Regions from separate parts of the Homo sapiens genome. Here region 1 is linked to region 2. The links come from fine-mapping of genetic effects on plasma protein levels. A gene starts in region 2. The other region holds a variant in brackets. All regions are shown on one strand. Distances are between the middles of the regions.

Region 1 (3,010 bases), 43 kb after region 2:
ATATGGACAAGAAAAAAAGATGACTTTACTTTTTACAGTAAAAATAAAACTTAAATTGAAGAGTACAATTGTTTAAACAATTGGAACTTACTTAGCTACTGCTTGTTGAAACAAAATCCTTTTTTTAAAAGGTATCGAAGCAAATTAAAGCTGATCCGTGCTAAGGAAGAAGACAGTGGCCATTATACTATTGTAGCTCAAAATGAAGATGCTGTGAAGAGCTATACTTTTGAACTGTTAACTCAAGGTATGTAAAGGGAGTATAAAGATAATGCTAGCTCTGTAGATGAGTGTCTTCCAAGGAAAGCCTGGCACTTTTCTCCCCGGTCATGGAAGAAAAGCAGCACTTAGGGGAGAAGCAGTGTCTGCATATGTCACATATCGGGAATACCTCTGCTGGACTCATGAATTCAGGTATTTCTGGGAGGTTCTGGGTTACTCTAGAGTAGGCGAGGAATCCCTAGGCTCCACCAGCTAGCTTTATTTTTGTAGAGATGGAGTCTTGCCATGTTGCTCAGGCTGGTCTCCTGGGTTCAAGCTATCTTCCCACCTTGGCCTCTCAAAGTACTGGGATTACAGGTGTGAGCCACTGCACCTGGCCTCCACCAGCTTACTTAGCACCTGCTTCTCAATCTGAGAAGAGAGAAGCAGATGACCTTAGATTGTTCTGGAGAGTTTTGCTACAAGTTTTCCTTATAGACATTGTACAGTGGTCCTTACCAGAAGGGAGTGCCCAAGTCTGTTTACATTCAGGCTCAGCACCTATCCAGAGTCCCAGCCATGAGCCAGGTGCTGTCTGAGGTGCGCTCATGTGATCCTCACAGTAAAACCTGTGATACAAGCAACACCGTATATCTAATTTATTTGACCACAGATTTAGAAAAGAATCTTTAAAACCTAATAACATACCACAGATGCATTTTGGTAAATGCTGCTTTAGATTATACTTTAGCTGAATCCATTAGTTGAATCCTAAGCTATAATATAATTTTAAGAACCTCCTTGCCTTTCAAGCCAAATAACCAAGGGACTTTCTCTCTCTCTTTCCCTCCCTCCCTTCCTTCCTTCCTTCCTTCTTCTCTCCCTCCCTTGTTATCTCTTTTCCTTTCCTTTCTCTCCTTCCTTCCCTCTTCCCTTTTTCCTTTCTCTCCTTCCTTCCTTCCTTGCTTCCTTCTTCCCTCCCTCCTTTGTTCTCTCTTTTCCTTTCCTTTCTCTTTTTCTTTCCTTCCTTCCTTCCTCACTCACTCTTTTCTTTTCCTTTCTCTCCTTCCTTCCTTCCTTCCTCCCTCCCTCACTCTCTCTTTTCTTTGCCTTTCTCTCCTTCCTTCCTTCCTTTTCCTCCCTCCCTCCCTCCCTTGTTCTCCCTTTTCCTTCCTTCCTTCTTTCCTTTCTTCCTTCCTTCCCTCTTCCCTCACTCTCTCTTTTCCTTTCTCTCCTTCCTTCCTTCCTTCATTCTCCCCTCCCCTCCCCCCTCCCCTCCCCCTCCCCTCCCCCCTCCCCCCCTCCCCTCCCCTTCCCTTCCCTTCCCATTTTTCTTCTCACCATGTTGCCCAGGCTTGCCTCAAACTCCTGGGCTCAAGTGTTTCTCTTCCACCTCAGCCTCCCAAGTAGCTGGGGCTACATGTGTGAGGCATCACAACCATGGACTTTTCACTTTCTTCACTCCAGGTTAAAAACATCACAGGGATAAATCTCAAAACACCAAAACTGTGAAAATGCTGCTAACCATGTGGGTCTGTCTAAACTGGAGTGTTACTTGTACAACTGGTTTCAGCCCCTCCGGAGTGTTTTGAATGCCATGTAGATGAGTTGTGAACTCATATTCCACTTTGTAGTCTCATATGTTCTGGGACACGAGCTATTCCATTCTGACTTCTTTCTGCCTCTTGCAGTTCCTTCATCCATTCTGGACTTGGTCGATGATCACCATGGCTCAACTGGGGGACAGACGGTGAGGTGCACAGCTGAAGGCACGCCGC[T/C]TCCTGATATTGAGTGGATGATATGCAAAGATATTAAGAAGTATGGAAAACAGATGTGTCTTCTTCTTTCGTGGTCAGAATATTTCTCCCTTGACACAAATGATGTCAAATACATTTTACTTATTGACTATAAGATAGGGTTTTGGGTGTGATAGCTTCAGGGTGTGTATCTTTTGTCATGAATAGCTGTGAGAAGAAGGTCCAGGGCTCTCATTAGACCTTCAAAATGTCTCCAATCTAAAAACAAGAGTGAATTTTAAGAACCACTGTTCTAAGAAGATTTTTACTACCCTGGCTCACATATCTTATTTGGTGAACTTTGTTTGGTAGTCGGACTGCATGTAAACATAAATGTGACTGCTTAGTCCCTTATCTGCCCACCTGCTGTTTGGTGGGTTAATTCGCCATTCCCTCCTCCCTCCCCCGAGTCCTCAGCCTTCTTAAATGGGCACATGAGCAATGTGTTTACACTTCATCCATGGTAACTGGTTGTGTTCAGAAGCCTCAGTTGTTTCTTCCTCTAGACAGAGACTCCTCATCTTAACTTCTAGGGCTAAGAACAGACTTGGATGTTGACTGGGGTTTCTAGTAGATTCCAGTGTGGAGCAGGATTCTAGGTCTTATAACTCAATCTGAGGATCATCGCAACCCTAGTGACACCCTAGGGGCTCTTCCCAGTGTGAGTGTTGAGAAGGGAGGGCTCCAGGCCTTTTTGAAGGGGTGGGAGATTGAGATCATTAAATATGGTTGAAGTTGAACTGTTCAGTTTGCTCATAGGTTCAAGATTGGGGAATGGTAGTCATATTTTATTAAACTTGATTATCTCTGCCTGCTATGTAAACACTTAGCTTTCAGTTGTTCATGTGTGAGTTATTCCCTCTTCAGCACATGCAGACAAGTTTTAATGTTCATCTGCATGTAAAATAAATCAGTGTGTATTGCCCCGAAATGCAGACAAGGTCCCAACTCCTTGCCATCTTAGAGTGTTCCCGTGGCTCCACTCATTGCCATGACTCTCAGGAATTGGCCCT
Region 2 (5,514 bases):
CGCGGGTTGAGATCTGCGCAGAGCTGCCCAGGCCAGTGCATGTCGCTCCTCTCCTCCGGGTACATATGGTGGCCTGGTCCCCTCCCCCCACCCCCCACACGGTGCCCAGTGAGAAGCACAAGAAGGGGAGAAAAGACCCGCAGCCCGCCTCAGGAGGGCAAGGTTTCTAGCCCCCTGCGGCTCCGGGACCACCCAGGACCCGGGGCGTCGTGGGACCGATCTCGAAGGATCTTAGAACGACACTGGGAGAGCGCGGCAAGAACTAGCCCCACCTTCCCCCGACGCCCCGGACTGACTGCCGGGCGCAGACCCGACTTCTCCCGAACCAGCCTCGGACCAGCCTTAGAAGGCGGAAAACAGGATTCAAACCCGCCTATGAGCAGTGGTAGGGGCGGGGGCTGTGGGGGCAGGACTCGGTTTAAGGAACCAACCGCCTCGGTTCGAGGGCCTCCTGTCCGGAGGTTGCTCCTGACCACTGGGTTTATTTTGCTTTTGCAGAGGAGGCAGATGTTGACCTCTCTTCTTTGCACAGTCTCTCCGCAAAATTTTCCCCCAACCATTTGCTTTCTTGCGCCACCCCCCACCGGGGCACTATCCCTGGAGTCAGCTCCTCAGGCCTTTAAACCTTCCAGAATGTCACACATGGAAACCTTTAGCAAATGTTTGTTAATGATCATAACAAAGGCATCATTCAAATTAGGCAGGTAATTACTACCAGAAGGACAACTGGGTGCTCGCTTGCTCATCCATTGCTTTCTGCTTTAAACTCCCGAGGAGTCGCTGCCTGGAGACACTCCCGCCCGGACTGCTTCTCGGGCCCCATTAAACGGCTCTGAAATGAACTGTGAAGTTACCATTTGTGGGCGGAGAGCGCTGGGGCCCTGCGGACGGAAGACCCTGGCTTGACCGGACTAACAGTGTCGCCGAAGCAAAGCAGCCCCTCTGGGTAGGCTGTCTGTCTCGCCTCCTACCCTCTGGGGCAACTAGCCTAAAAACCCGGTTCTCAACTTAACAGCATGTGGCCCAGCACCCGCTTTTGCCTTTTATTCCGCACTCTGATTTTTGGGGGGATCGTTTGTTCCCGCTCATTTTCTACAAACATTACGGTATCCTGTTAGCATTCCGAACAAGGGGCTGTTCATATATTTGCCTTCAATGATTTCCTGAAGGGACATGTGGAAGTAATAGCGAGCGGTGCAGTCACCCAAGCTGAAGATGCACGAGAGCGGGTCGCGTAGAAGAACTGCGGCAATGGGACCCCCAGCGCAGCCCCAGGCGCCCTGTTTTCGAGGCTGACATCCCAAGATCCTGTCCTGGTTAGGCACAGCACCGCGCCCGTTGGAGTACTTCTCTGTGACTCTCCCCTGTCCACTGCACTGTGTCCACCCTCCTGGTGAAGGAGGAGACGGCTGTTGGACATGCCAGTCCCAACCTGGCCACTTTGGCCATTTTCAGAGTGCGTGTGTTGGGGTGGGGTTGAGGGAGAAGGATGAAGGATGACCCCCAACCCCAACAGGAGAATTCAAAAATCAGAGAGCGATGAAGGTGAACGCGCTCCCCTCCCCCGCTGTCGCTGGGAAGCCCCACTCTGCCCAGGTCTGGTTCCTGGAGCATCAGCGCCCCCTTTCCCTCGCCGGCAGGATCGTTTCCTCCCGACACTGGCCTCTCGCCTTGGGCGCAGGGTTTGGGGCTCAGCTGTCAATTCCAAGGAATTCGTAGGGTTCGACCCACGCGGCGGGAGGGAACGGAGGGAGAATCAAAAGGCATCCTCCCCCACGACGCGGAGGCGGTGGTACGATTCCTCAAACGCCCAAGCTTGAGCTTTTTTTGTATGCGAGATAGAAGCCAGGGCAACCTCGCCCAGATAACCCCGAAAACAAAGGCACGACCAGATAAGTGACTTCAAGGGAGTAAAGGTCGTTCTATCGGAGAACGTTCCAAACCTACACAGACCCTCTTTTCTTTGTACCGTATTTCAGACCACCCAGTCTTGTACACACACACACACCACACAAAACAAAAACCCATCATTGTCATATTGGACTCAACAGTTTGCCCAATCCTATTAAATAACTAGCAACTATATAGCCCTTCCCCTAAAAGACCCCTAGTTCAAAACGGCGCAACCGCTTGGAGATTTCTCCCGAGGGCCCTATTTCTCGTTGGGCCGAGTTTGTAGAAGGGACATTTCTTGATTCTAGATTTATATTCTCTCTGGGTATTAAATGCAATTTTGTATGTTCCTTTTCTTCTTTTCAAAGAGAATACAAAACTATAGCAGTCTAAGAAAATAACCCCAAAATGGGGAGGCAAACTCATTCTGGAAATGATGGGCTGTTTGTAGTTTCACAAAACCTCTTTCCCGGCAGAGCACCAACACCTCCCCCTTCCACCACCCCCCATCCCATCTGGTCTGCTTCTCCCCGCCCCCCAGTTGTTGTCGAAGTCTGGGGGTTGGGACTGGACCCCCTGATTGCGTAAGAGCAAAAAGCGAAGGCGCAATCTGGACACTGGGAGATTCGGAGCGCAGGGAGTTTGAGAGAAACTTTTATTTTGAAGAGACCAAGGTTGAGGGGGGGCTTATTTCCTGACAGCTATTTACTTAGAGCAAATGATTAGTTTTAGAAGGATGGACTATAACATTGAATCAATTACAAAACGCGGTTTTTGAGCCCATTACTGTTGGAGCTACAGGGAGAGAAACAGAGGAGGAGACTGCAAGAGATCATTGGAGGCCGTGGGCACGCTCTTTACTCCATGTGTGGGACATTCATTGCGGAATAACATCGGAGGAGAAGGTAAGGGAAAAGAAAAAATGATTTTTTGTTTATAAGGGAAGTCCCTGATCAGACTCTGGGACTGGAGAAAGCGAAGTAACTTCAAACTTTGGGCGACAAGAAAAAAAAAAAGGAGCTGGATTCCAGTTGTGTGTCCAGAGAGTAATTTTTTTTTTTCGGAATAAACTTCACTTGGGGACGGGTGGGAGATAACCATAGAGTTAGAAAGTCTAGGTATTTTTTTTAAACACACATTTTCCAGACCTATTTTTAAAAACAATGTTTTTCTAACAACCCTATGGCCTCCCAAAGAAATTGTTTAGGCTTACATTTTTGAGGTTTCTTTTGGGAGTGGGGGTGGTGTTCGTGAATACTGGGCCGAACACCAAGGAACTGGGGGTGGAGGCAGAGGTGTTTGCCCTCTTCTTGGCAGTGGGTCCTGGAAGGCGACAGGTTTTAAATGAGTGTTTTCATTCCTCGCCTGCGGTTTGGCGGGACAGCGCTGCAGCCCATGGTGTGGAGCGCGGCTGGGGGACCAGGGGGAGGTGGGGAGAGGGGAGCGTGGAGGGGAGCGTGGAGGGGGGCGCGCGAAGGGGTTGCGGGGCGCAGGAGGCGGGCTGGGCTCGGCTGGAGACCGGACCTCGGTGTTGGCCTACAGCACAGGGAGCCGGCCGAATGCGCGTGATTACTGGACGGCGCTGCTCTGGGAGAGAGTCGGGGCCAGATTTGGCGCGGCGGTGAGGCGGCTGCGGGACAAGCAGAGGCGCGCGGGCGTGGGCAAGGGTTTGGGGCGCTCTGGAGCGGTTTGTTGGGTCAGTGAGGTGCCAGGGAGAGCGGGTGCCTGCCGGGCAGTGTGCTCGGGTTGCACGCCCTAGCGCGGGGGCGACAGCGGCGGCGCGGGCGGGCGGTCTGGAATAATGACAAACACATTTGGCCCTGAGTGAAGAAGTCGTCGTCGCCTCGCATTCCAGCAACTGGGATTTGAGGAATTTCGAACCGCACACCAAGGGGCCCTCATTGTGCTCCGTGGCCCCCGCCCCCGCCTGTCTTCCCGCGCCCCCTCCTCGGTGGAATCATTTCTGCATTGCCCGGGGGCTCTGCTTTCGCTCAGTTCTGGCCGCAGGCAGGAAGAGAGGAAAGGTCTCCAGGAAGGTGCCGAACTTCTTGTGAGGAAGTTAGGGACGACTTGGAACTGGGGAAACTTGTTTGCAGGTAAGACAGAAAGGTGGGAGGTAAACCATATTCTCCCTCCGGGCACCCGAGCCCTGGACACCCCCTACCCGGCACCCTTCTCCGCGCGGGGGTGCGTGGCACTTGCCGTCTGAGCTCGCCCAGCGCTGCTCGGTCCTCTCTAGTTGGCCTTTTTTCCATTCCTCTCCCTGCCGGCTTCAGAGCCGTCTGTGCGTACTTCTCCTTCCTCTGCTGTCTACCCCCATGGAAACCAGATTTACACACGAAATTAACTCCGCCCGGCTGCGCCCAGGGAGCGGGCGGCGTCCATTTGGCATTGAATATGTGGGATCAGCTGTTCTATTCCGGGAGGGTGTCGGCCAGGTCGGAGCGACGAGTGTGGCCCAACCCGAGTACGTTGCCAGAGGGAGCCAGGAGCCTGGGCCGGGCCAGGTGTGCGAGAGCTGCCGATGGCCTGGCCTCGCGTCTTGGTCGGGAAGGACTTGCTGGCCTGGCAGGCTGTGCGTTGTGCATCCCTCCCGCAGCCAGAGCGCCGGTCCCGCACTTCGCTCCCCGAATTGTGCTAAGACCTCAGGATGTGCGCAAGGAGTGCCTGGAAGAACTTGCCACTCACTCCATCTTCCTGGGTGGGAGGCAAGCATGGATGGGGCCCATATCAGGTCCCTACCGCCCCGCGTCCGAAAAGCCGCGGGCTGGGCGGTGTGGGAAATGGCTTTTTGGCTCCGAGGCCAAATTGCTCAATGTTTTGGACCGACTCGCCTCGCCGCGGTCGCTCCTGACAAGAACTAGACAGATTTTTGGAGCAGGGAGCATCCAGGGCAAACGCACGACAGTCCTCCGCAGTGCATCTCACCGGACAAACATCCCCGGAGCCACAGGAGGGGAGGAAGGGGCTCTCCGGGCGTGCGCACCTCCCCAGCCGCCGCGCTGTCCCATCCCCGACCCCTAATCTGGTCAACCTGGACCCCGGCACTGCTGAATTGCATCCCCTCTTCTCCCTTTCTCCTCGGCCTCCTCCTTTCCACAACCCTCAAGATGAGGAGGCCCTGCCTCGACTCCCCGACAGGCGCAAGGCCGACCAGGCTCGCTTTGACGCCCTGGTCAGGCCCTGCTTCGGAGCTTGCAGTTTTGGGTTGACCCAAGTGCAGCTGGACCTCGTTCACAAGAGTGAGGGGAAGCCAAGAATGAACCCGTCGTTAGCCCCCGGTGCCCTGGCTCTTGTTTAAATCCTTAGATCGAGAAGGACTTGAAGGAGATCCCAGGCTCCCAGCTCTGCGCCCCTGGGCCAGTTTCCTCTCGGGACGCGGACTGAGGAGGGATGCAGGGGGAGGGGCATTGGGCCGGGCTTTCCAGCTGCAAACACGTCTGGCGCCGAGGCGGGCCCATTTTGTGCCTCCTGGGGACGGACCGTGGGCGGCGCGCAGCGGCGGGACGCGTTTTGGGGACGTGGTGGCCAGCGCCTTCCTGCAGACCCCACAGGGAAGTACTCCCTTTGACCTCCGGGGAGCTGCGACCAGGTTATACGTTGCTGGTGGAAAAGTGACAA

Which allele goes with the higher level. Alleles are on the strand shown, and positions count from the first base shown. The strength of an association depends on the size of the effect and on how common the allele is.
In carriers of allele C in region 1, the plasma level of the protein whose gene starts at base 2,676 in region 2 tends to be higher than with T alone (moderate association).

Evidence for each region. PIP is the chance, under the fine-mapping model, that this variant and not a neighbour inherited with it causes the effect. Protein levels are from antibody-based Olink assays in UK Biobank. Linkage for the fine-mapping came from a reference panel and not from the study's own genotypes, which makes the PIPs less certain.
Region 1: its variant is fine-mapped to the plasma level of the PDGFRA protein (UK Biobank, PIP above 0.99). The variant lies in the coding sequence of PDGFRA. If it changes the protein, the assay may bind it differently, which can mimic a change of level.

The regions. Positions count from the first base shown.
Region 1 is chr4:54,270,502-54,273,511 of GRCh38, forward strand. It overlaps PDGFRA (platelet derived growth factor receptor alpha), which reads left to right. Exons shown (of 23, transcript NM_006206.6): 8 at 132-247; 9 at 1,893-2,019. Among named protein-coding and RNA genes, the nearest start is that of PDGFRA, 43 kb to the left of the region's middle. The variant T/C (reference allele first, on the strand shown) is at 1,980.
Region 2 is chr4:54,226,618-54,232,131 of GRCh38, forward strand. PDGFRA (platelet derived growth factor receptor alpha) reads left to right here and starts at 2,676. Exons shown (of 23, transcript NM_006206.6): 1 at 2,676-2,798. RefSeq lists enhancers at 1-320, 1,149-1,974 and a silencer at 1-26.